7 linked regions of the Homo sapiens genome follow. The protein of the gene in region 5 purifies or fractionates together with the protein of the main gene of each other region. This does not show direct contact. Each region holds a gene or a part of one and is shown on either strand. Other genes may lie near its edges. The genes, in order: LMO7, BTBD2, CROCC2, DYNLT2, CEMIP, SHROOM3 and MARCHF8.

Evidence for each region.
Region 1: the proteins of CEMIP (region 5) and LMO7 purify together in Homo sapiens (affinity purification with mass spectrometry, with the first as the bait; one study listed by BioGRID). This does not show direct contact.
Region 2: the proteins of CEMIP (region 5) and BTBD2 purify together in Homo sapiens (affinity purification with mass spectrometry, with the first as the bait; one study listed by BioGRID). This does not show direct contact.
Region 3: the proteins of CEMIP (region 5) and CROCC2 purify together in Homo sapiens (affinity purification with mass spectrometry, with the first as the bait; one study listed by BioGRID). This does not show direct contact.
Region 4: the proteins of CEMIP (region 5) and DYNLT2 purify together in Homo sapiens (affinity purification with mass spectrometry, with the first as the bait; one study listed by BioGRID). This does not show direct contact.
Region 6: the proteins of CEMIP (region 5) and SHROOM3 purify together in Homo sapiens (affinity purification with mass spectrometry, with the first as the bait; one study listed by BioGRID). This does not show direct contact.
Region 7: the proteins of CEMIP (region 5) and MARCHF8 purify together in Homo sapiens (affinity purification with western blotting; one study listed by BioGRID). This does not show direct contact.

The regions. Positions count from the first base shown.
Region 1 is NC_000013.11:75,803,830-75,807,329, reverse strand, and holds part of LMO7 (LIM domain only protein 7), read right to left. Parts: intron 3,042-3,500; coding exon 2,789-3,041; intron 1,852-2,788; coding exon 1,570-1,851; intron 1,273-1,569; coding exon of another isoform or gene 1,069-1,272; intron 1-1,068.
Region 2 is NC_000019.10:1,995,215-1,998,714, forward strand, and holds part of BTBD2 (BTB/POZ domain-containing protein 2), read right to left. Parts: intron 2,250-3,500; coding exon 2,130-2,249; intron 1-2,129.
Region 3 is NC_000002.12:240,986,336-240,989,835, forward strand, and holds part of CROCC2 (ciliary rootlet coiled-coil protein 2), read left to right. Parts: intron 1-2,403; coding exon 2,404-2,535; intron 2,536-3,318; coding exon 3,319-3,498; intron 3,499-3,500.
Region 4 is NC_000006.12:169,741,573-169,745,072, reverse strand, and holds part of DYNLT2 (dynein light chain Tctex-type protein 2), read left to right. Parts: intron 1-798; coding exon 799-1,005; intron 1,006-1,834; coding exon 1,835-1,993; intron 1,994-3,500. UniProt on the Homo sapiens protein: May be an accessory component of axonemal dynein and cytoplasmic dynein 1. Candidate for involvement in male sterility.
Region 5 is NC_000015.10:80,777,998-80,782,169, forward strand, and holds the start of CEMIP (cell migration-inducing and hyaluronan-binding protein precursor), read left to right. Parts: upstream 1-1,372; 5' UTR 1,373-1,617; exon of another isoform or gene 1,618-4,127; intron 4,128-4,172. UniProt on the Homo sapiens protein: Mediates depolymerization of hyaluronic acid (HA) via the cell membrane-associated clathrin-coated pit endocytic pathway. Binds to hyaluronic acid.
Region 6 is NC_000004.12:76,756,729-76,760,228, forward strand, and holds part of SHROOM3 (protein Shroom3), read left to right. Parts: coding exon 1-209; exon of another isoform or gene 210-360; intron 361-1,320; exon of another isoform or gene 1,321-1,864; intron 1,865-2,816; coding exon 2,817-2,967; intron 2,968-3,500. UniProt on the Homo sapiens protein: Controls cell shape changes in the neuroepithelium during neural tube closure. Induces apical constriction in epithelial cells by promoting the apical accumulation of F-actin and myosin II, and probably by bundling stress fibers.
Region 7 is NC_000010.11:45,465,872-45,469,371, forward strand, and holds part of MARCHF8 (E3 ubiquitin-protein ligase MARCHF8), read right to left. Parts: intron 1-3,500. UniProt on the Homo sapiens protein: E3 ubiquitin-protein ligase that plays several important roles in innate immunity and adaptive immunity.

The sequences.
Region 1 (3,500 bases), on a different chromosome or scaffold from region 5:
CTAGGAAAACAGACTAGCATTTAATCCAACACCCATGACTTTCCTGGATAATCCCTAAAGAAATAAGAGCAGAGCATACTTCTCAGGAAAGTTGGGCACCATGGAGGCCACGGATGGGGCTGGAGCATGGACTAGGTACCCCTCCCAGGCACACACAAAAGCCACTCCCTGGTACCCTGTTTTTTGTTTGTTTGTTTGTTTGTTTGTTCTGAGACAGAGTCTCACTCTGTCGCCCAGGCTGAGTGCAGTGGCGCCATCTCTGCTCACTGCAACCTCCGCCTCCTGGGTTCAAGCAATTCATCTCCCTCAGCCTTCCGAGTAGCTGGGATTACAGGGGCCCCCTATCATGCCTGGCTAATTTTTGTATATTTAGTAGAGATAAGGTTTCACCATTTTAGCCAAGCTGGTCTCAAACTCCTGACCTCAAGTGATCCACCTGCCCTGGCCTCCCAAAGTGCTGGGATTACAGGCGTGAGCCACCCCGCCTGGCCCCTGGTATCCCTTTCTCATTCCATTTGCCACAGTGGCCTAAGTGTCCCCTGAAGAAGAAGGAATAATCTTTGAAAGTTTCACAAGTTGTGCATCATGCACTTTATGCAATAGGTATATGTAATCAGCAGGAAAAAGGGAAAATAAATTGCTCTGAAGTTTTATAAAAGAGCTCAAGGAATCTTCCCTTTGCATTTTCCCTAGACTTGCCCTTCCCAGTCTCCACCTGAAAGTTATTTCCTTTTTCCACATCTCCACACACAACAAAACCGTGAAATTAGGTAAACTTTCTAACAAGCCTTTTTGAACCGGCTTTTCAAAAGAACTGCCACATGTAAATATATCCTGTCTCACACATTATTGTGCTAAAGAAGAATGTTGAATCCTACAGACTTCCAAGCTGATGTAGTTGCACAGAAAGCAGCGTGTTATACATTACGCTTTTGTACTAAGTCCACTAAGTGAGTCAGGTTTCCTGATTCAGTGCAATCAGGTCCCAGGCTAATGGAGCAGCAGAAGCAGGCAGAGGGTTGTCTGAGGCCAGACCCGCAGCAGGCAGGCTCATGCAGACAGGGGCACCTGGGCTCATCCGAAGCACTACTGCTTCTCCTGGCTGCATGGGAGTCCGGTGATTTTACAGCCCGTTTGGTAGCTAATTCCAGCAAGAGTGAAGGTCTTTGGCAGTTGCCGTCTAGCCTATGCTCTGCTTTTTGTGCTCTACTAAAAACGGTGGCGCTTCTGTCAGAACCTGAGTCCTCATCCTCAGAGTCTGAATTCCTTCTACTGTGAGTGACATGAAGAAAAGAAGGGAAGAGGGAATGAGACAAAGAATTGGAGAAAAACAGAACTACTAAAAATAATGCCGTGCTATGACTATGTATAGAACAGGGCTTTTTAAGATCTAGATCCTCAGGTTTAAATTTAAACAGAAATTCATTTCCATTATATAGGTTCCGCAGATACTAGAGAACTAATTAGACTTTCTCTGTCTCTCTTATTATTATAAAAAACATGCACATAGAACCCCAGCTGGGGTACTGAATGAACACTGGTGTGACAGAAACATGCACAACGACAAACCTGAATCCCTGAAATTCTTTATACCATGGCTTATAAGTTTCCCTTTTTATTCTTTTCCAGTTCACATCTTCTGGGGTCCAACATTTGGGAAGAAACTGATCAAAAGCATTCCCTGGGTTTGGCATGACTGGACTGAGCTTGCGCACATAAAGATCATCCTTTACAATGTTGGGTATGCTTCTTGTCTTTGCTTTTTCCTCTTCCAAATAACAAGAGGACTTTGAAGTTCCTTGTACAGTTGGCCAGTTCTCCACATTGGTGCCCCAAATCCTCCTCTGATTACTGTTCAAAACATCCAACCGGTTAAGACACTGTATGAGCATTTGTGACACAGAACACAAATGGCATGCTTTCTGGTTCACAAAGTTTACACCACTGTGAACAAAGCAAATTAGTTTCCATTCTCATCACCACCACAGCTCCTAGGACAAAGTTATTATAACAGCATCTCATTTTAACTCAAGGATAGCTAGATACACACGGGCCAAAGATACTTCATTAGAAGCTGTGTTAAAAGGAAGAGGCACATAACAAACAATTTGGGGTGTTACTTTCTGAATTAAAATCAGCAGCATAATAGACAGCCAGATCCAGGACAAGTATTTCTGACCTCGTCAGTCCATATAGCCCCATGGCAAACATATCAGCAGGAGAAAATATTTGCGGACAAGAATTAGGATAGGTGATTTTCGAGATGAAATTCTGGGGCCTCTTTTTCACTTGGAATCTACGGTTGGCTAAGTCATCCAAAACTATGTCAGGAAACCTTCGTTCATCCTCAGAGTCCGAACCACTTTCAAAACCGTACGCCTCCCCATGAGAGGAAGCTGGATTTGCAAAACCACACTCTGTTCTGCTAATTTGCTGAGAAATTAAAGGATTCTTTTCATGTCCACTAAGATCAATCAAAAAAGGAAAAACATTACATGGCATGGCTCATCATGAACAATACAAATTATCTGGTAAGCTGAAAAATACCAATAAACTGAAGTCATGCATCTAAAAAAAGACCTAGCAAATCATATGCTGACATTCTAAAACAGAAGAAATGGCTTCAAGATATGTATAACTAAAAATAGAGGGATGAAAAATATTCTCACTAGTCAAGCTTAATATATGATCTATGAAACACATTTAAGAGCCATTCTTTTTACCACATTTAACATCCTACCATATTCGAAAAGCATACGAAACTCAATAATCACACCCATCTCAGTACCTTGAAAATGTTCCATCTGCTTCTGTATAAACCGGGCTTGCCCAACTTCTTCTGTTATCCTCATGTTTGTCTGGCTTTTTCTTTCTCAGAGGTGCTGGTACATAGGATGGCTGTCTACTTTTGTTGGGTAAAAAACGATTGAAGGGTAACGCAGTCTTTGGCTCAACAGCCGAAATCCTTCGATACGACATATCATCTTTATTATAATCCTGCATCTTAAATGTAAATTCCGAATCTGTGTCACTTTCAAAACCTATAAAGAAGGCACAAGAATTTGCTTTACTCTCCAGATTATTCGCCTAACTGAAACCCACACAGCGCGCCTGCTTTGTCTTTCCCTTAGAAACCCAGTGCTGCCACTGCTAACTGCAGGGAATATTTTTAGAAATTTGTCACGAAGTTGTGATAAGATCCATTAGGAGGAACTTGCTTTGCATACTGGAGGCACATGCAGTACATTCTTTTGCTGCTGTAGGCTCTAAGAAGAATAAGTCCTATTTTACTAGTGAGCCCCTTTTTTCTCAATCTCTTCCTCCATGATTTTCCATAAGATTTGTTGATGTAATACATAGAAATAAAATCTAGCAATGGAGTCACAGATACTTAAAACAACATGCAAAAATAATTCTGGGAGAACTCAGTAATTTAAAATAAGGCATGCAGCTATCTATAATATATGTGAGGAGAGAGATCAGGAAGGATGTAGAAAGAG
Region 2 (3,500 bases), on a different chromosome or scaffold from region 5:
CCTCAGCCTCCCAAAGTGCTGGGATTACAGGTGTGAGCCACCGCGCCTAGCCATACTTTGGATTCTTTTTTTTTTTTTTTTTTTTGAGAGGGAGTCTTGCTCTGTTGCCCAAGCTGGAGTGCAGTGGCATGACCTCAGCTCACTGCAAGCTCTGCCACCTGGGTTCACACCATTCTCCTGCCTCAGCCTCCTGAGTAGCTGGGACTACAGGCGCCTGCCACCATGCCCGGCTAATTTTTTTGTATTTTTAGTAGAGACGGGGTTTCACCGTGTTAGCCAGGATGGTCTCGATCTCCTGACCTCATGATCCACCCACCTCGGCCTCCCAAAGTGCTGGGATTACAGGCCTGAGCCACTGCGCCTGGCCACTTTGGATTCTTCTAAGTATTTTACAGGTCTAGATCTTACATTTTGGACTTTGATCTATTTTTTTTTTTTTTGAGACAGAGTCTCGCTCTGTCGCCCAGGCTGGAGTGCAGTGGCATGATCTCAGTCCACTCCAACCTCCATCTCCCGGGTTCACGCCATTCTCCTGCCTCAGCCTCCCAAGTAGCTGCGACTACGGGCGTCCGCCACCATGCCCGGCTAATTTTCTTATTTTTTATTTATTTTTTCTATTTTTAATAGAGACGAGGTTTCACCATGTTAGCCAGCATGGTCTCAATCTCCTGATCTCGTGATCCGCCCATCTCAGCCTCCCAAAGTACTGGGATTACAGGCGTGAGCCACCGTGCCCAGCCTGGACTTTGATCTATTTGAGTTAATTTTTATATACAGTAAGGTAAGGGTCTAACTTCATTCTTCTGCATGTGTATTTCTAGTTGTGCCTGTGCTATTTGTTAAACTCTCTTTTCTGTTGAATGGCCTTGGCACCCTTGCAAAAAATTATTTAACCCTATGTGCAAAGGTATTTATTTCTGAGCTCTCTGTTCCATTCCATTGGTCCCCACGTTCTGTCCTTACGCCAGTACCACACTGTTTTGATGATTGTAGCTTTGCAGTGAGTTTTGAAATCAGAAAGTATGAGCCCTCCAACTTTGTTCTTTTTCAAGATCGTTGTGGCTATTCAGGGTCCCTTGGGATTCCATATGAATTCTAGGATAGTTTTTCTATTTTTGCAAAAAACAGTAATTCTGATAGGATTATACTGACTGCAGATCGCAGTGGGTTGTGTGGACATCTTAACAATATTCTCTTCAATCCATGGACATGGGATGTGTTTCCATTTATTGTGTCTTTTTAAATTTCTTTCACTGATGTTTCCTTTTTTTTGTTGTTGTTGTTATTTTTTGTTTGTGTACTCCAGCTTGGGCAACAGGAGCAAAACTGTCAAAAAAAAAAAAAAAAAGAAGGAAAGAAAAGAAAAGAAAAAGAAAAGCAGGGAACTGGCTGGACACAGTGGCTCATGCCTGTAATCCCAGCACTTTGGGAGGCTGAGGCAGGCGGATCACCTGAGGCCAGGAGTCTGAGACCAGCCTGGCCAACATAGAGAAACGCTGTCTCTACTGAAAAACACACAAATGAGCTGGGTGTGGTGGTGAACACCTGTAATCCCAGGTACTCAGGAGAATCACTTGAACCAGGAAGTCGGAGGTCTCAATGAGCTGAGATCACACCACTGCACTCCATCCTGGGCAACAGAGCAAGACCACGTCTAAAAAATATAAAATAAAAAGGGTGCCTCTGGGCTGGGCGCGGTGGCTCAGGCTTGTAATCCCAGCACTTTGGGAGGCTGAGGTGGGTGGATCATGATGTCAGATCGAGACCATCCTGACTAACACAGTGAAACCCCATCTCTACTAAAAATACAAAAAAATTAGCCGGGCGTGGTGGCACGAGCCTGTAGTCCCAGCTACTTAGGAGGTTGAGGCAGGAAAATCACTTGAACCTGGAAGACTGAGGTTGCAGTGAGCCAAGATCACGGCACTGCACTCCAGCCTGGGCAACAGAGCGAGACTCCATCTCAAAAAGAAAAAAAAAAGTGCCTCTGGAACCCCTCATTGCACAGGAACGTTCTAGAAATCTCCACCAAGCCAGGGCCTCTGAGCTGGTGTCAGACAGGGTCTACGTTCTCTGAGGTCCCCCTCCCCAGGCCCAGCTCCCCAGCAGGAAGCATCCGGAAGCATTACTTGAGCAGTGCGAGGAAGGCAGCGGGTTCCACGTCGGGCAGCTCAATCTCCGTGGATGTTGTGGCCATTCCCCCGTTGAACATGGCATCAAAGACGGCGCTGCCCACGGCCAGCACGAACCTGGTACGGGAGAGAGAAGGCCCTGGTTAAGCCCGTGGCCGCCACCCCACGGCCGGGAGGGCCAGCCCGGTATCCTGGGTGACCACCCCACTAGGGCTCCCTGCCAGCCTCCAGCAGGCATGTACCAGGCCCCCCGATGGCAGAGGCTTCTGGAAGGGGCCTGGGACAGCAGGAGGGTGATGCAGACGGACCCACGGCAAGGACAGGCAGGGCTAGGACCATGCCCTGGGCCACACAGGGCCTCACGCTCTGCCAGCCCTCACCATCCTCTCTCTTTCCTTCCAGGCGTCAGGCACGCACTCATTCACTCATTCCCATATGCATGCATTTATTCACACGTGTTCATTCACACATGCATTCACACATACGTTCATTCATGCATGCATTCACTCGCTCATTCACATGCATTCATTCACACAGGCGTTCATTCACTCATTCATTCACATATTCATTCATTAACTAATTTCCATGTACATTCACTCAACTCATACACATGCACTCATTCATTCATCCACACATGCATTCATTGATCCACTGATTCATTCCCGTGGGCATGCATTCACTTGCTCATTTATGACACATGCATTCATTCACTTTCTCATTCATCGCACACTCATTCACTCACCCATTCACACACACACACATTCGTTCATTCCCACATGCACTCATCCACTTAGTCTCATTATTCACTCATTCATTCACACTCGTCTACTCTCTATCACTCTCCTGCTCACGCATTCCCTCATCAGCACAAGCTTTCCCAGGGAGTCAGCTACAGGCACAGGGCCTGGCCTCACTGAGGGAGACAGACGAGGACCAAATGGCCGAACAGCCCCCACTGAGTGAGAGAAGAGAGAGGAGCGTGGTCCCATCAGGAACGCAAGGCCCAGGGAAGCCCTGTGGGGTCATCTGAGCCGCCACGTCCATGGGGAAGGGCATGGAGGCCCAGGAACAGCAGGAGCGTGGGAGGAGCGTTAGGAGGCAGCAGGGGTGGCCCCAGCTGGGAAAGCGGTGGCTGTGAGGACGCTGGGGGTTCTGCCCCGTGTGAAGCTCAGGCTGCCTATGGGGCCCACTCAGTGGCTCAGATCTTCGATATCGCCACAGGCAGGAGGGTGCGGTGAGCAGAGAAAGGCTGCTGGTGCCTCCCCAAGAGCCGGCTATGAACCCGCGTTTGGCCAGGTCTGTATGGGGTGGGGAGAACTCCACGGCTCCCAGGCTCAAGACGCCACTCTGTGCTGTCCATGTACAGTC
Region 3 (3,500 bases), on a different chromosome or scaffold from region 5:
CCCTGTTGCCCACTACCCAGGCCTCCTCATGGCCCCTTGACCCCAGAGCCCCACACCCACCCCCTCCCAGCTACTCTCCTGCCACCCTTGCTCATGCAGCCTCAGAGTGGCCGCCAAGATCAAGGAGAGCCAGAGGTCAAGGTAACCTGTGGGTCACCCAGCTGTAGGGACAGGCCTGGAAAGCCGAGCCGGTGTTGCCGGCTCCACGACCCATCCACAAGCTCCCACCTCCAGCGTCCTGGGGGACTCGAGCTTGTTCTCCTTGGGAAGTTTGTTCACCATCCCAGGCTGGATGGCGCAGGGGGAGGGGTGGGAAGGGCAGGTGTCTTTGGACTTCCATCCGTGGAGCCTGGGGGACAGCCCCTTGTCCCTCTGCTGTGTGCTGCTGAGGCCCTGCAGGAACAGGGAAGGTGCCCACACAGCCACCCAGGCTGGCCCTGCAGAGTGGGCTGCACCAGCTGTGGGCCCAGGGTTCTGATGCCCTCACAGCCCCCTTCTGGGAGTAGGCAGGGGGCCCCCATCTGTGAAGTGGGGAAGGCAGGTGCTGAGGCCTCAGGGGTGAACCCCAGAGCAGGGTGGCCCTTCCCAAGGACTCACTGCCACCTGCAGAAGGCCCCGCAGCCCAGCCTGCCCAGGGAACAGGGGCCAGCAGGTCAGGACAGTCACGAAAGCCACCAGCCAGCTTGTCCACAAAGGACCACCTGCCCTCCAGAGTAGGGCCAGCCAATGGGGTCCAGTCACCAGCCCCTGCTGCTATTACTGAAGGGGGCCCAGCGCCATGGAGCCAGGGTGTTGGGGCCTCCCGTGGACGCTGCTGGGGGTGGAGGAGCAGGGGGCTTGCATCAGCCCTGGTTGCGACAGCACTGCCCGGGGACGCAGAGCCAGCTGTGGGCACAGTGCCCACCGTGAGTCCCTGGAGCCTGAGGAGGGGGAGGGAAGGAACAGCTAATGAGTTCCAGGAGGTCAGCTGTGAGGGGCCCACAAACCCATAAACCCTTTATTGGTGTCTCAGGAGGGGAAACCCGGATGTGGCCGTTTATTTATTTTGGATTTCACTTTTCTCTTCTCTTTATAACATGCACTTCCAGGAGTGTAACTGGATTTTTAAAGAAACAGGACTTCCTTTTTCAGTGCAGGGGACTCTCTGTTTTTCTCAGTCCTGAAGAAGAAAGGAACCCTTATTTTTTGTAAAGTTCCAACCACTGACCCTGTAACAAACTTTACCCATGCAAATTATCCCCTCTGTCTTAGGGCCCGAAACCAGGCCTGCTCCAGCCCTGAAGCTAAGAGGGCAGGTTTGTGGTGTGCCAAGTGTGTGCACTGAGCCCCAGGTCTGCTGCCCAATCCTGGGCCAGGGCCAGCACCCGACAGAGGGCATTGGGGCCAACAGAGGACTGACCTGGCACTCCAGCCCAAGGCTGTCACCCCTGTGGACACAGCCCCAGCAGGCATGACCCTCGGGGCTGGGCACGGCAGAGCCTGGAGGCAGCCTGGTTGGGAGAGCAGGGCCTGGGTTCCAGGCCTGCCTCAGCGCCTGCCTGGCCCAATGAGCCTGTGACATCATGGGATCCCTTCCACACCAACTCCCCATGAGGCATGCCCCAGGCCATCTGGGGGTGCTGGAAGCAGGCTGTCTGGGGCTGGTGGACGGTGTTCCTCTCCCAGTGCTGCTCTCTGTAAGAGAGAACTCTTAGATTCAATCCTTTCCTCCAGAGGGCCCATTCGCAAGGGAACAAAAGGTCCCTGCCAACTTTCCCATAGAAAATGTCTGTTTCCTGGGTAACCTTCCCTGATTTTTAACCTGGAGCTTATCCCTCCTGACCTGTACCCATGGGGTAGGGAGTGGGTGACTAAGGAGGGAGCACATTGGGGCAGCCTACAGCCTACAAGGAGGACAGACGGTGGGGATAGTGATGCCAATGCCACAGGCTTGTTGGGATTGAGACAGCAAGTGTACCCAGCTCTCAGGGCCTGTGCCTGTACGAGCTCAGCAGATCCTGAGTGCCAACAGCAGAAGGCAGGTGCCAGAGAGTGCAGGGGATCATGGCTCATGAGACCTGGAGGAACACTGAGAAGGGGTTTGCGGGGTAGCTCCTGGGATGTCACCTTAAAAGATGTAGGGAGTCCCCCATTGAGGATGTTGATGGGGCCATCTGCTGCTCTGTAGCTGGATGGGGACTTGGCCCTATGCTCCTCCTTAAGCTGTCACTCTGGCTGCAGATATTGGATAGACCTGGGTGAGGCCAGGGGTCCTGGCCCAGGGCAGTGCCCTTCCTGACGCTGCCAGCTCTTAGGGGAATTCAGAGTCCTTCCCAGAGGCAACCCTGTGCTCCCAGAGGAGGGCTGGCCTGACCTCACTCCCTGCCAGGAGGCCACAGGTTCTGCCTCCTGGGATCTCTGCAGATGGAGCAAGAGACACTGAAGAGGGAGGAGGATGTGGCGAGGCTGGGGGCTGAGAAGGAGCAGCTGGACCAGTCTCTGAACAGCCTGCACCAGGAGGTGGACGGAGCCCTGAGGCAAAATCAGCAGCTGCAGGTCAACTGGGCCAGTGGAGCTCTGCATACCCCAGGCCTGGGGGCAGACCTGGGGTGGGATCCAGGAGGGTGTCAGTTCCAGAGGGGTGGCTGGTGTACCTCCATCTCACACGTGCACACATGGGGAGGGTGGCTGGACCAGCTTCTGCATGTGATGGATACAGACTCAGACCAAGGCCCCAGGCAGAGCTGGAACCAGGACCCAAGGCTCCTGCCCTTCTTGAGACATTGAAGTCCCCATGGGAGCCAGGCCCGGGCTCTGTAGAGCAGCACAAGGGCCAGGTGAGGGAGGTCAGAGAGGCCTGTGGGGCATGGCCAGAGGCTGCTACCTGCTTGTGTTAGGGCGAGGAAATCCCCTGAGGCCTAGGGGCCTGACACCCACAGAAGGGGCCTCAGAGGCTTCATTCATCCTGTCCACATTGGACATACCCCCATCCTCAGAAACCAGCAGGGGATGGGGGCAGGATGGGCAAGAATCAAACTTCGATGCCCTCCGGACACCCAGCCCAGCCAAAAGGAACCTGGGGTGCCATGAAAACAGATTTTAGGCCCACCCTGGAGGCTGTGGCTTAGTCTCCAGCCCAGCCAAAGCCAAACCCAAGGCCCACGGGCTGAACATGTGCACCTAACCCCAGGTCTGCTGGGCAGTCCTGGCCAGGTCAACACCGGCAGAGGGCAGTGGGGCCCACAAGGACAGGTGAAACACCCTGTGGCACTCCTGCCCTGGGATTCTGTGCGGCCCTCAGTGAGAGACAGCAGTGAGATGCCCAAGTTCTCACTCCAGGCCCAGATGACAGAGATGGAGCAGGCCCACACCCAGCGGCTCCAGGACCTGACAGCTCAGCACCAGCGGGACCTGGCCACAGAGGCAGAGCGTCTCCATGGGGCCCGGCCGCAGGCCACGCAGGCCCTGGAGTCCCAAGAATGGACCCACCAGCAGCAGGTAAAGGTGCTGGAAGAGCAGGT
Region 4 (3,500 bases), on a different chromosome or scaffold from region 5:
ATACTCGATGGGGAAACACTGAAAGCTTTTCCTGTAATATTAGTAACAAAGCAAGGATGTCCACTTTTGCCACTTCTTTTCAACATAGAGCTGGAAGTTCTAGCCAAGCAATTAGGCAAGAAAAAGAAATTCCTGGCTATTAATAAAATGAAGCTTACTGCTTTAACTTAAGAGGTTAGAGCATTTATCTGGGACATATTGGGCACTAAGCAAATATTTCATTAATGCATATTGGATGTCACAGAATGGATGTTTCATGTCAAAAGCATGAACTGATATATATATCAAATCAATGCTCTTTTGGTGTCTTTTCACCTTAAGACTTACGAATGTGCTATCTAAATAATTGTATTATTTAAAAATAAGTAAATGAAGTAAAATAAAATTTTAAGACAATGAAGGATAATATTTTCATAATCTCAGGGTAGGGAGGAAGAAAGGTTTTCCCTATATCTCCATCCCATAGCCACTCAGTTGCCCTCCCTGGAGGCCACTCTTGTTTCTAGTTCCTTTGGATCATCCATGGATATTCTAAATATATGCATGCAATTTGTATGTATATGTTTGTGAGTATAGATAAAAGAATAAATAGTATTCCTATTTTTTTTTGCCAAATTGATAGCCAGGAGTGAATCTAGGATTTAGCAACCACATTATTGTAGAAATCTGTTTAACAAATTTCCAAGCTTTGTGTGAGCCCTGTCCCACTGTACAGGCTTATTTAATCTGAAAACTCATTTACAGTTTAAAAAGTAATCTTTCTGCCTTTCTCTCTTCCCCTCTCTCTTTCTCCTCCAGTATACACAGATTTTAAGAGAAAGACTGAGAGAGTCAATTCACAATGTTCAGTATGTGGAGCCTCCTTTTGATGACTCAATTGCTGATATAGGTAAAGAATGGAAGAGTGCCCTGGCAAAATTAAAGTTTGCTAATTCATATAGAATGGAGCCATTGAAGAAATTCCAAGCTCATTCAGTAGAAACTAAAGTCCAGCAGATACTAACAGTAGGTTGATAAATATATATGATAGCAGTATTGTATGAGGGTTCTACAGAGAAACAGAAATTATATATACGAAGAAATTTATTCCAGGAATTGGCTCATACAATTGTCACTAGAACCAGAAGGTATTGTGTCATTGGTGCAGGCACAACAAGTTAGTTAATCAGAGATGTGTAGTCTGTCTGCTAGGTGTCCAGTTCTGCTCCTGGTTTGTAAGAGTAATGCTTTATAGTCCACAAGCCATGTCCATTTCCTTCAAGCTATACATTAATTTATTAATAAACATGGTTAGAAATCTTTGATTTCATTTTCCTGGAGGCCAGAGAAAAATTAGTGGAGTGAGAGACTAGAGGGGAGGGCTGGAAAGAAGTAGTTTTAATATGAGCCCACTGAGCAGGGCAGTGACTTGGTACAGGTTCTGAGTCCAAGTAATCTTCAGTATAAGAAAACCAAAATCTGAATTTTAATAAATGTATAAATTTAAAAAGGTTTCTTTCCTTTACCTAAGAATTTCCTTTACCTTCTAGAAGTCTTCTTTAGAAAATCTCCTTGTGTCTATTAACTGTTTGGCAGAGTAGTCTAGTAAATTACAACTTACAGCTTGTATCGCTAATGAAAAGTAATTGAATATAATTTGAAAACCCCAATAAATATTCCTCAAAATTGTTACTGAAATAGGTAAGCATAAAATTTATTTAATATTATTTAGTTAGGAATATATTTATTTTAAAACAGTTATATATATATTATTTAGACATGTTTTCTACTTGAATTTTTATATAGAAAATATTTGGTTTGAAAATAAAAGTATTTTTCTTAAATTTTCTTAAAGGAAAGTCTTAAAGATGTCAAATATGATGATAAAGTATTCTCTCACTTGTCACTTGAATTGGCAGACCGCATACTGTTAGCAGTCAAAGAATTTGGGTACCACCGTTATAAGTTCATTATAAAAGTATTATTTATTCAAAAGACTGGCCAAGCAATAAATGTAAGTACCCCATTGATACAGGATCTAGCAATTAGAACTATAAGGCATCTCCTCCCTAGTGATTTGATTTTTATTGTGATGACTCAAGGGCATGCCATAGATTCTGAGGTACTTTTTGAAGGAAAGTATCATGTTGTTAAGTATATTTATTTCACTGTAAATTATTTGAAAAGTACAAACCAGCTGGGTTCGTTGGCTCATGCCTGTAATCCCAGTAGTTTGGGAGGCTGAGGCAGGTGGATCACCTGAGGTCAGGAGTTTGAGACCAGCCTGGCTAACATGGTGAAACCCCGTCTCTACTAAAAATACAAAAATTAGCTGGGCATGGTGGTGGGTGCCTGTATTCCCAGCTACTCGGGAGGCTAAGGCAGGAGACTCACTTGAGACTGGGAAGCAGAGGTTGCAGTGGCCCGAGTTCGCTCCACTGCACTCCAGCCTGGGCAACAGACTCAAAAAAAAAGAAAGAAAAGTACAAACCTAGAAGTAGCAATTTGGTACTACTAATTTATTAAATTGCACTGCTATTCTGTTCCTTGATCATATCAATTTTGACAGTTTAATGTCATTTAAGTTAACCAGTAAATTTATTTTGGGCACTAATAGGTGTTAGGTACTAAGGAAAATCAAGGAATGATAAAACACGGACCATGATTCTCAAGGAGATTTTACTCTACTTAAGGAGATAAAGCAGCACAATTTAGAATTCAGGGAAATAAAATGATAGGGATAATGTAAACAGCCTGGGTTTTGGAGTCAGATTGCCTCTGCCACACTTGCTGGCTGTGGCCTTGGCACAGTTTCTTCATCTATAAAATGGTGATGATAAAACTGGCTTCCTAGAGCTGTTGTGAAGATTAAATGAAATTATCTGTATTAAAATCCTTAACATAATCACCAGCACAGAGCCCTCAATAAACAGCAAGGTAATTATAAACATTATTTATTAATAAAGAGATAATATCACTAGGCTGTGTAATTATGTAAGGAGTTGGTAAGGAATATGTGGGAGTTGGAGAGAAAAGAGAGAAAAAGCTGTGTTTGGAAGAATCTGTAGAGGTTCCATAGAGGAGTGGACTGCATGATGAAGCATGGGGAGGGGGACCTGGACTGGCAGAGGGGTACTGGCGAGAGAACCGCCAGTCAGCAAGAAAGAACCGTCCTGGCTCCCATGGAGAAGAGAAGCTGCACCACATATGACATACAGACTTAAGAAATAGGGACGTTGTAGATGATAAGTGCTACAAAGAGAACATTAAGGTAGGGATATGACAGAGTAGCAGAGTGGCTACTTGGGATTGTTTAGAGAAGGGAGAACCCTCTGATGTTCAGATAAGAAGGAACCAGCTGTACCAAAGAGAAGGGAGAATGTTCCAAGCAGAGAAAACTTCAAGTGCAAAGATCCTGAGGCAGGGATGACTTGGAGTGCTTGATATGTAACAAGTGTAGCTGGACTAGTAGCTAGTAGATAGTGGCATGATGTGCAGTGGGGGAATGTTTCAGCTTATAT
Region 5 (4,172 bases):
CTTTCTGGAAGAGGCCTAGAGGTGGATTGCAGGACTTCCCAGTTTAACCAGGTGACAAAGGCTTCTGCTTCAGCCCAGATGTGATCACAGACTTCCACAGCTTCTGCCGACCACAGCCTGGCCTTAAAGTCCAGACCTAGAGTCCCGGAGCTAGTGTGTACTACACAGAATGGAGACCTTGCCTGAGGAGCTGGTTCTCAGAGAACACTGGCAGGAAGGAAGAAAGAAATGTATATTCTAGGAGGCCTCTGCTAACCAGGAAAGGGGGCTGAGTCACACTCTGAAAGGTGGAAGAGGCAGAGAGCAGGTATCAACGCCCTCATTTTACAGATTAAAACAAAACAAGAAAAACAAACACTCCTCACCTCCCTGCAAAAAAACCACCCTGAGGCTCAGACAGGGGAAGTAGCTGGCCCTGGTCACACAGTAGGTTAGCGGCAGAGTTGAGAGGAGACTCCATATGCCCTAGGGATGTGTTGTGATGAACTTTTCCTACTGGTACTGTTTCCTCCCGCGAGGGAATGTCTAGACCAGCCGCACCTTCTTGCTTTGACCCTTCAGAACTTTGGCCTGTCCAGTTAAAGAGGCACAGAGCCCTCCTACCCACAGGGAATGTTTCTAACTTACCAAGCACCTATTATGTGCTTAGAACTTGGACTTTCCTGATCTCATTTAAGCCTCACCATTCTAGTGAGGAAGCATCACAGAACCCATTTTCCTGATGAGGAAACTGAGACTGGGAGGGGTTAAGATCCTGTACACAGTTGTAACTGGCATGTCTGAATCCAGTTTCAAACCAAGGTGCCTTTCAGTGAACACCCAAGCATCTTCCTCTCGGATTAACTGCTAGGCCAATACCAAAATCTCTTTCTCGGGCTACTCTTTTGCTGCTGAGTTAAAAAGAGATCCTGAGACTTAGCCTGGGACCCCGACTCGCGGCGATTCTGTGGCAGGCGCAGACCTTTTCTCCTGTCCTCCACTGCCTCTTTGCCTCGGAGGGCGCCCCGGGGCGCGAGCGGGGCACGGGCGACCCTGGCTCCTTGGAGGCCCGGGGACTTGCTCTCCGCGGTCCGCCGCGGCCGCTCCACCGAGTCCTGGCCTCCAGCGCCCTCACCTGGCTGCTGCGGGCGGGACTCTGCGCACCCGGGCTCCGCGGGCTCAGGTCTGCGTCTCCCAGAGCCGCCGCCAGAGCCCGCCCCGGTCCGGCCCGGGCACAGGGCCCCCGCCCCACTTGGGCAAGGCGGGGGCGCGTGGAGGGAAGTTTCATCGGGGGGCGAGGGAGGGAGCTTCGGTGCCGCGCGGGCGTCAGGGGCTCCTCGGGGGAGGAGTCAGTAAAAGTGGCTATAAAAGCGGCCTCTCGGCTGAGGGCCGGGGAGCTAGCGCTCAAGCAGAGCCCAGCGCGGTGCTATCGGACAGAGCCTGGCGAGCGCAAGCGGCGCGGGGAGCCAGCGGGGCTGAGCGCGGCCAGGGTCTGAACCCAGATTTCCCAGACTAGCTACCACTCCGCTTGCCCACGCCCCGGGAGCTCGCGGCGCCTGGCGGTCAGCGACCAGACGTCCGGGGCCGCTGCGCTCCTGGCCCGCGAGGCGTGACACTGTCTCGGCTACAGACCCAGAGGTAAGAGGGCCTGGCTGGGGGCGTCAGGGATGAGCTGACGGCCCATGCCACGGAAGAGAGGTAAGAAGTGGGGGCCCGCGCCTCCACCCGGCACAGGGTAAACGTTACCCGCCTCAGTTTCTGTTTGTCTGTCCACCCTGTGCTGTGCAGTCTACCTCTATCTGTCTGTTTGTCCATGCGTCTGTTGATGGGCACACGCTCTTGGCACTGTCCTCTGTGGGATTTCTCTGAGATCTTGTGATGCTTTACAAGCTGCAGGTGCCGGGGGGCGCTGGAGTCCCCAGAGGGCATCCAGAGGGGGCAGACTCCTGCTTTCCGTAGATTTTCCCCCTTCTGAATGGCACCGGGGGCTTGCGCCCGGGAGAGTGTCTCGCCGAGGAGGGAGTACCACAAGGGTCAGGTCTCGGTGTCCTGCCGACTGGGAGCCAGCTCACGCCGAGCTCTAGCGGGCGTGCGCCTAGCAACAGGTCTGCGCCCTGCTGCTCCTGCCTCAGCACGCTCTTCCTCCCAGTTTCCCTCGCCTCCCAGTGCCTCCGGGACAGCGCTAGGCACCCAGCGACGCGCTGGCGCGGGGCCGAGCTGAGGCAATTGCAATGTTAGATGAACCCGGGGGGCTCTGCTGATGTTTAGACTGAGACTCCAAACGTGGCATCGCTGGAAGAAGGTCTGGTGGTCCCTGGCAAAGGACGTCGGCTCCAAGAAAGGTCGCGTTAGGTTGTGAGGAAAGGCAGAGAGTCCTGGCAGAACGCTGGCCAGGTCTCCAGCTCGCCGCTCTGGGAACGAAGGCCAGTGACATTCTGGAATGGACCCCAAGGGATGCGTGTGCTCATGAGAGAGGAGCGCTGTGCGCCCTGGGTCCTCAGCCGCAGACACTCTCTGCGACAGCCGCTGTTCCCCAAGGGTCGGACGCTACGGCAGTCCCAGGAGTTCCGCCAGCTGCCGGGTTTGAGGTCCTGAGTCCTTCTCCAAGCAGCCAACGCTACCCACAGGTGAGAGCTCCCTTTAAAAACTAATCTTCTGATGTGTGAGCCAGTGCCTGGCTGCAGCCCCATACCAGGGACGGTGAGCCGGGGAGCGCGTCTCTCCATCCCTGCGGTCTGGAAAGTGATCCAGGGCGCGCCCGAGGGCGGGGAGCCGGCGGCTCTGCGTGCCCAGGCGCGACGCCACCATGGACAGCTCCCAGCCACTTCCTCCACTCGGGGTCTGTGGCCCTGGGTCTCCGGGGAAGTCGTGCGCTTTCTTCCCAGACCCAAGGCGTTGGGGCGCTGGGAAAGAGGAAAGGGACTGAGAGTCCGCTGGGGCCCTCGGTATTACCACTCAGGAGGCAGCCCAGCCCTCAGGAGTCTGTGGTTTGTGACCAGGTCCTAGCTGAGCCGGCAGTTCTGCAGGACCTCCCGGGGGCACTCTGTGGTTCTCTGGCTTTTCTATGACACCACGGAGACCCCTCAGAGCTGTTAGGAAAGTATGGCCCCTGAGAATCCGACCCAGGCAGTGAGATAATGCCAGATACAATTACGCCAGACATAATTAGGGATCCAGCTCAAACTGTTTTCTGTGTAGGGCACAAGTTCATGTGTTCCATCAAATTAAATTATTTATTTAGTACATATGGGATTGGGAGGATATATTAGTTTTACGATTAATGATAGAATGGAGAAGAAATCAAATAGAGCAAATTTATAGAGAAGGCAATCGGATGCATTTGCAAAAGCAACTATGCGGTTTTCTGATCCTAATAGTTTTGTTCAAAGCCCATGACTTTCTTAAAGCAATTTCCAAAGGCTCCTTTTTAGCCCAGTAGATGACTTTTCAAGTTGGTCACTTGAAACAGGGTGGAAAAACCTGTAGGGTTTAATCTGTGCACCAAATTAAAGATCTCCCTTCTCTGGTAAGAAACGACACTGGATGGGGCTCTTTTTGTCATTTCCACCCATACTGAAGTGTGTATCTTCCTTTATTTTAAAATTACAAGAAACGCAGGTCTGCTTTTTTTGTGTGTGACTGACAAAGGCCGACGGAGAGTAAAAACAAGTAAACACCTCTTATAAAAAAAAATTTTGAGACAGCATCTGTGACTTTGGGAAAGTTGCTCAAATGTTTTGTGCCTGTTTGCTGATATGTAAACTGGGAATAACGCAATGCCATCTTGCAGGGTTGCTATGAGAATTACAGTAATTGGTACAATGTAAAGCATTTAATCCAGTGCTGAGCATAGAGAAATCGTTTTAAATGGTAGCAATTACAGGTATATTTTAAAGACAGTTGTGCATTTCTTTTGAATTATGTTCACCATCCCTTTGCCCTCTCTCTTAACCTAGTAACTGTTTGATAGGGACTCCATCTTCACTTTATTTTTGCATCCGAGAACTTGTTGATGGAATTGATGAAAATGCTGGAGTTGATCACAATGAAAAAAAAATTCTTATTTAAAGACAAATGGAAGAACTTTTATGTGATAAAAATCGGTCAACTGTTTTCCCCTACCTACACTACTTGGAGGAAAGATAAAAGTAAGTTGTTTTCAAAATACTCTCACAGCCCTCTGGTTCAGATGA
Region 6 (3,500 bases), on a different chromosome or scaffold from region 5:
GAAGACATCAGAACAGAGGCTTTGGCCAAGGAAATTGTCCACCAAGACAAATCTCTAGCAGACATTTTGGATCCAGACTCCAGGCTGAAGACAACAATGGACCTGATGGAAGGTTTGTTTCCCCGAGATGTGAACTTGCTGAAGGAAAACAGTGTAAAGAGGAAGGCCATACAGAGAACTGTCAGCTCTTCAGGATGTGAAGGCAAGAGGTAAGTCCCTGGTGATGTCCTCAGAGAGACTTACAATCACACTCCTTCCATGGGGATGATGATAAGTCTAGGACTAGTTGCCTGATGTTCTCCTACTGCCACAGCTCCTGAACCAAGAGTGACATTTTATCTCAGTCTTGGAGGAATGGCTCTGGCAGTGAGGATGTGGGACAGATATGCAACAACAAAGAAAGTAATAGTAATAATTATAATAATTGCCATTAGTACCCATTGTTAACGTTGTGTGTCAAACATTGTATTAATTTATTTATATCAACATTATTTAATTTTCACAAGAACTTTCTGAGGTGGCTACCAATTTTACCTCCATTTACAAATGAGGAAACTGAAGTACAGAGGAATTAAGACCATGCTCACCAAGGTCATTGAACATGTGAGTGATGGCACCTGGATTTGATCACAGCCCCATGACTGTGCCTGTCTCCAGCAATTACACAGTGCCCCCAGCTCAGCAAAGGTGTACTTGCCGGTTCTGTATCAGAGCTGCTCTGGCAGAGAGGCCCTCAGAGCTCGGTGCTGGGAAAGGAGCAAGTGGAAGTGGTGAGCGTGGCCAACGTCTTGCCAAGACTGAGAGGGGAAGGGCTTTGTAAGGAGGAGAGCCTAGAGAAATAGATTCGTGTACTACACTGACCCTTACCTCTGAGGCATTAAGGTGGGTGTTGGCGCAAATCCTGAAAATCAGGAAAGGTCTGAGTAGGAGCGCACTGTCTGGTTTGGCCCAGTCCGTGAGCCTCTGCTTCTGAAGCTCCTTGAGCCAGCCATGTAACACGTGTCCCAGTGTGCAGTCTGTGCTTTTCATTTCTCCTGGGTTACTGCAGTATTTTCTTGCATGTTTTATTTCCTTAAAAGACTACTATGAGAAAGACTGAGTAGCTTTCATTTTCTCTTAAATTTTCAGTGAAATCTTTGTGGATTGACAGTCTGGGACTCAGCAGTTAGTGGCTTCCAGACTAAATAAAAACAGAACATTTTATCCAAATTTGGGATTGCATTTTAAAAATTTCCAACTGATCCTAACTAAATTACTAACAGGAACACCACGTTTCATTTTATGGGGGAGAGAGAAAGGAAAGAGCTATGTGATACTTACAAGCTATTTGTCACATTGTCAGAGGCTCTTCTGATTCAAGGCCTTAACTGTCACCTTGTCCATTTCACTGCTTTTATTTTCAGATTTGGGAAACAGACTAATTGAGGTGAAGTGATTTATCCAGGGTCATGTCTTTAGCAAACACATACTGAGCACCTACAATGTGCAAGGCAATCCACTGGGTACTATGGGGACCCCAAAGATAAGATTTTTGTAGGTGTGCCAGTCAGTTCACCATGGGTGGTTGCAGTATGGTCATTCTGTTCTCTGACCACTGGCTGAAGGACCAAAGTAACATCCTTAGCAAAGTATTTCCTAGCATTACCACTGGAAATATATGTTTGCTCCGTCAGTTTAGAAGCAGAATGGTCATGGAGCTTTTGCAGCACTGAGACCTTCCTGGGGATTTAAAAAAAAAAAAAAAAAGGCATGCGCCATCTCCTGGTGGAAATAAGCATTGTCCTGTTGGGCATGAGATGGCCAGTAGCCATTGTGAGGGTTGGTCAGATGCCAGAGAATCCCATTTGTAATGCGGTGGACATATCTGAAAACAAAAACAAACAAAAATGTATCAGAAAATCTTTTCCCTGTCTTTCAATTAACTGGATTAAATGTGGTCATTGTTGCTTACTGGGACAGTTATCAAGCAGGAAACTAGTAAAGATGATTTTTTGTGTGTGTGGTTCCTAATTTCATAGTAAAATGATGGGCTAGATGTTAAATAATATCACAAGATTAAATAAAGTTCCTCTCCAAGAGAATCGTACTTCCATAGAGTCATTTATTCAGTGGGTAGGATATGAATTATAGGCTGAAAGGCAACTCAAATGTGGTAAAACAGAGAACTACTAGATAGCAGGTTTCTCAATTCTGAGTTTTTTCTTCAGCCTTAAAACATCCCTATTATATTATCAATGAGTAGATTTTATATCTTGTATTAGTTCACTGCGGACCAGCAAACTGCAGATTTCCCAGGATTATATGGGATAGCAGGCACACTTGAGAAGGAAAAATTTTGTGTGTTCAAGCAACAGTGCATAGTAGGCACTAGAAAGATTACATGTAACCAAAGGAGTATAGGAAATAATTGACCTAAAACCTGAGGTTTGTGCAGCACCTTGAAAATACTTTCACATTGATTGAGTCATGGTTCCACACTGCCTTTCTCTGAAATAAGGAGTCAGTGTCGTTCTTATATGAATCACAAAAGCAGAGAGGTTAAATGTCTTCTCCAGAGTCAGCTGGCGAGGCCATAGCCTTGACTCCCACTGTCATCCCTAATGCTGCTTTTGGTGGTTTTCCATCCCAAGTTTGCCTGGCTTCAACAGCCCTGTACATAGTAATCACTCATTAGTTAACAGTTACTAGTTTATCCTAATTTCTGGGAAAGAAATTAAATAGAATTGTTACGCACTTCTGAATGGACTGACATCTGCAGTGAAACAAAGCCTCTGGCGTGATCTGTGTGGCTATACTTTGTGCTCTTTTTGGCCCAGGAATGAAGACAAGGAAGCAGTGAGCATGTTGGTTAACTGCCCTGCCTACTACAGTGTGTCTGCTCCCAAGGCTGAGCTACTGAACAAAATCAAAGAGATGCCAGCAGAAGTGAATGAGGAAGAGGAACAGGCAGATGTCAATGAAAAGAAGGTAAATAAAGAATGGGATGCCCTTGTTCAGCTTTCCTCAGAAAAATTGACAAGGTCCATGTAATCAGCGTGGTGACTGGGCCTCTTGAGGCAGGTGGGGAAAGGACCTGTCACATCACCAGATTGCACCAAAATCATTAGACTTTGGATTTACATGGCACTTTAACTAATTTCCTCTTAGCTTTTCTGTGAGTAGGCAGGGCAGGTAAGCTACTGTACTTTTCGTTTTTACAAATAACAGAAGTGAAGCTTAGAGGGATTATTAGAAGTCTCATAGCCAGGACTTGAACCCAAGTCCCTAGCCTCCTAATCCAGCACCAGGACCCCGACACTGTTCTCAGCTGCTGGTTGGCCAGTGCCAACGGTGTGTGTAATTTTCTTGTTTCATAGTCAAAAGGAAAATTTTAAAATCTAGAAACTTTTTTTAGGGAAGGAGGCCAATTGTTAAATGACACTTCTGAGAAAAAGTAATATTAACCTTTATATCTTCCCCAGCCCTTTTTGAGGGACTTCAGCGAATAGCTTGAAAGTGCA
Region 7 (3,500 bases), on a different chromosome or scaffold from region 5:
AGTTCTTAGGAATCTTAAGTTTACTTGGACACATGAAAATAGCATCCTTGAAATAACCCTCCCATCACTACCTTTGTCAATATTCTTCCTGAAACAAAATGAAAGACATCTAGGGATGCCTGTGGACACTATGCTGTGACATCCCTTGCATCTTCTAGGCCTGACTGCATAAGCCATTGTCCTTTTTCTCCAACTGCCTTAGACACTGTCCCCTCTCCAGCATCCTCCTCTCGGGGCACCCATCACTGGCTCCACCTGCCCCAGAGACAAGCACTCAAGGCCTTTTAGTACAATGGGCTTTACTGTTTATACCACAGGGGAGCAGATTGAGAGGGTATCCATGCTAAGGTCCCCAAACTCCTACAGTCCCCCTGTTCTCTGACATTTAGTCCTAACACTATTCTGGGACTGAAAGCCTTCCTGTACTTATTGCTCTCTTCTTTTATTTCTGAGGATGACCAGCTCTGTTCAACACACATAGGCAAGGCTAAAATGTGTCATGAAGACCAAAGCCTGATCACGGTGTATTGCAGAGAAGTAAGCGTCTTCATCACCTGTCCCCAGGTAGACTTTGAGGAAGAAATACCCAGCAATATCCACATGCTTGCCCCTCATTGCTATGAGGTCACTTCTTCCTCTGTGTTGCTGGGTCAAGCATACTCCCTGGAACTGATGAGGCATTGAAGGAAGCCCCCTTCCTTCAAGGGATGGCAGCAGAGGAAAGTACCTAGTCACCCTCCTCCCTTTTATCTTAGTAAGAGCATGGTCCTCTTGGAACCACGTGTACTTTCCTGTATTCTGAAGGGAAGGCAAACCCTGTTGGGAGGAGGTAAGGTCTTATCTGGAAAATCGTGCCCAATCAAGGTCAGTGTCCTGGGTCCGGGAGGCAGGTTTCTGATGGGAAATTAAAGTTCTGAACTCCAGTACTAAACTACAAGTAATCCAAGTCAAAAAGTGTACTCTGGGGTAACGATTCCATCCTTGCATGCCCATGATGAGGAGCAAGGCCTGAAGGTAGGAGGGCAGAGCCTCGTAACAAAACAAAGCCTGGATCAAGGAAGCAGCCACACCAGGCACACACACACGTCAGGACATGTGTTCACTTCCCTGTGTGGTTCCCCATGTGTGTGCACTTGTAGCAGATGTCAAGGCCAGCATGACAGTGACAGCGGACCCAAGGAGGAAGGGAGTTCTGGCAGGGCTGGGGAGATTCTGCCCTGCTCAGTTTTACTTAGGAAATAGGAAACAGCGTTGGCATCCTCTGCCTACATTTCTGCTCTCATTTCACCATTTCCAATCTTATGAAAACATTACAGGATACTCTCAGCAGGTATGTCCGATCCTCATCAAGCCTCCCAATGACAGAGAAAGAGTCTCTCTTCTTATTAGATCACAGAATTTAAAGAAAAATTTTAAAATCTACTTATTGTTATTTTACATAAATATAAACTTCAACAAATGCTAACTCTTCCAATAAAAGCAAGAAAACCAGTGAGATCTGTGGGGTCTTCACAGCTCCCAGAAGAGGCTCCTTCTGTCACGATCTAAAGGACAGCAAACATTTCAAAGGTCAGAACCAATCCATAGGCAGAATGGTCAAGAAAATAATTTTAAAGAGCTTTATTTGTTGCTGCTATAGACCTGAGAGAAATCTATCAACCAACAAAGACCTAAAAGACTGGCCTGATCAACAACAAAATGAAGCTGACAGCTTCAAATAATGGTTCCATGGTCAGATTCTGGAAGCCAGTGTAATCAAAGGCCAGCAATCCCCTCTTAGGAGCTCTGCAGGACAGAACCTTACTAGATGGGACAGGACCTCACTAGATGGGACAGGACCAGCCGTCCTGCTCTTTCTGAAAGCAGCAGGCAGTGTGGCACGTGTGAGCCGGGGGCAGTACTAGCTCCAGAGAACACCTACACTCTCCTCTCCATAGGATCAGACCACACACGACTCGACAATTACTAATAAAAGTGCAAATGTTCATCATGCAAAAATCCAAATGTGTCAAGAAAACTTAGGCCCTCTGTTCCTGAAGTTCTTTGCGGGTTGCCAAATGACAGACTCTCCAGTCATGAAAAGGAATATAAAGCAATCTCACTACAAAAAAAAAAATTCTTGTAAAAATCCTCCCTTCTTCAGATGTTGTAATTAATTATGCCAAAACAAACCTCTGGATTTCTATCCAAGCCTAAATCCCAGTTTATTTTATTTCTTAGAAATGATAAATACTTTTTGACAATTTGTTTTGCTACATCCAAGTCTTTTAGTGGCTGGCTTTGTTATCAAATTCACCATTTTAAATGATTTTAACAAGGTTGCCAAAGAACATACGGGGAAAAAAAACTTTTCCATATATCCTTGGCAGAAACTGGCATTCCCCTTTTCTCAGTTCCCTTCTGAGAGTGCCTGCTGTCGCTGGAGCAGCTATAGCAGTGTGTTTACCCAGTTGATAGTGCACACATCCTTCTCACTGCAGGACACCAGCGCACCTTCCTTGGCCTCTGGCGCCTTCTGCCAGGTTACTGCCCAGCCTCCTCTATTACCCACGCCCCTCATTTTCTGTGCAACCCCCAACTGGGCCTCCTTTTCACTCATCAGCTAAGCTACTTTTAAACATTTGGGTCTCAGGCCCCTAACAAAAGCAAATTTGCCCATCTGATTTATTTCAAAAGGGAGAGGGCCACAGGAATGATCTGTTTGAGTGAGCTTGTTTTTAGGCAAGGAGGAACGTGAAGACAGGCTGGATAAGGATGGTTAAGAGGCCAGAAGAGCTCATGTTTACAACTCATCACAAATTACAGTACTGCAAATCAATGACTTAACAGAAACAATGGGAAAAGATGCACAGATGGCTCTCAAAACATGAAAAGATGCTTCATTTCTCTCACAATGAGAAATACAAATTAAAACTACAATGAGATACCATTATCAGCCAAGAAAATTAATCAAATAATATGTGTTGGCGGAAGTGTTGGGAAGCAGGTATGCTTATACATTGCTGGTGGGAGAGCAAATGGTAAACCTCCACAGGATGACAACTGCCCTCAGGATGACAAAGGCACATATACTTTGTCTCAGCAATTCTTTTAGGAATTCATCCTCACACACCTGCGGGAAGAGGTTTGTACACTGCACTAGTTTGTGACAGCAAACGGCTGGAATCACCCTAAATGCCCATCACCTTGGAGCTGAGGCAACACTGTTCCATCTACAGAAAGAAATATCAGCAATCATTAAAAAAATGGGAAAAGTTCTCATTATGTCCAGTAATGAACACACAAAGTGAAACAAGCAGAGAGAGGCACCACTGCCATCTGTGCTGGTGCTGCACAGACTACTCAGGAGGGAGACCAGGGAACCTGGATGGAGGGACATGGACTTGTCACAGAGACCCACAAAACCATAATGCCACTTTACACTGAGCAACATTTCCCAAACAGAAATTCATTCTTAAAATAACAGGTGATTGATGATTTTAAAAAGTAAAACAAAACTG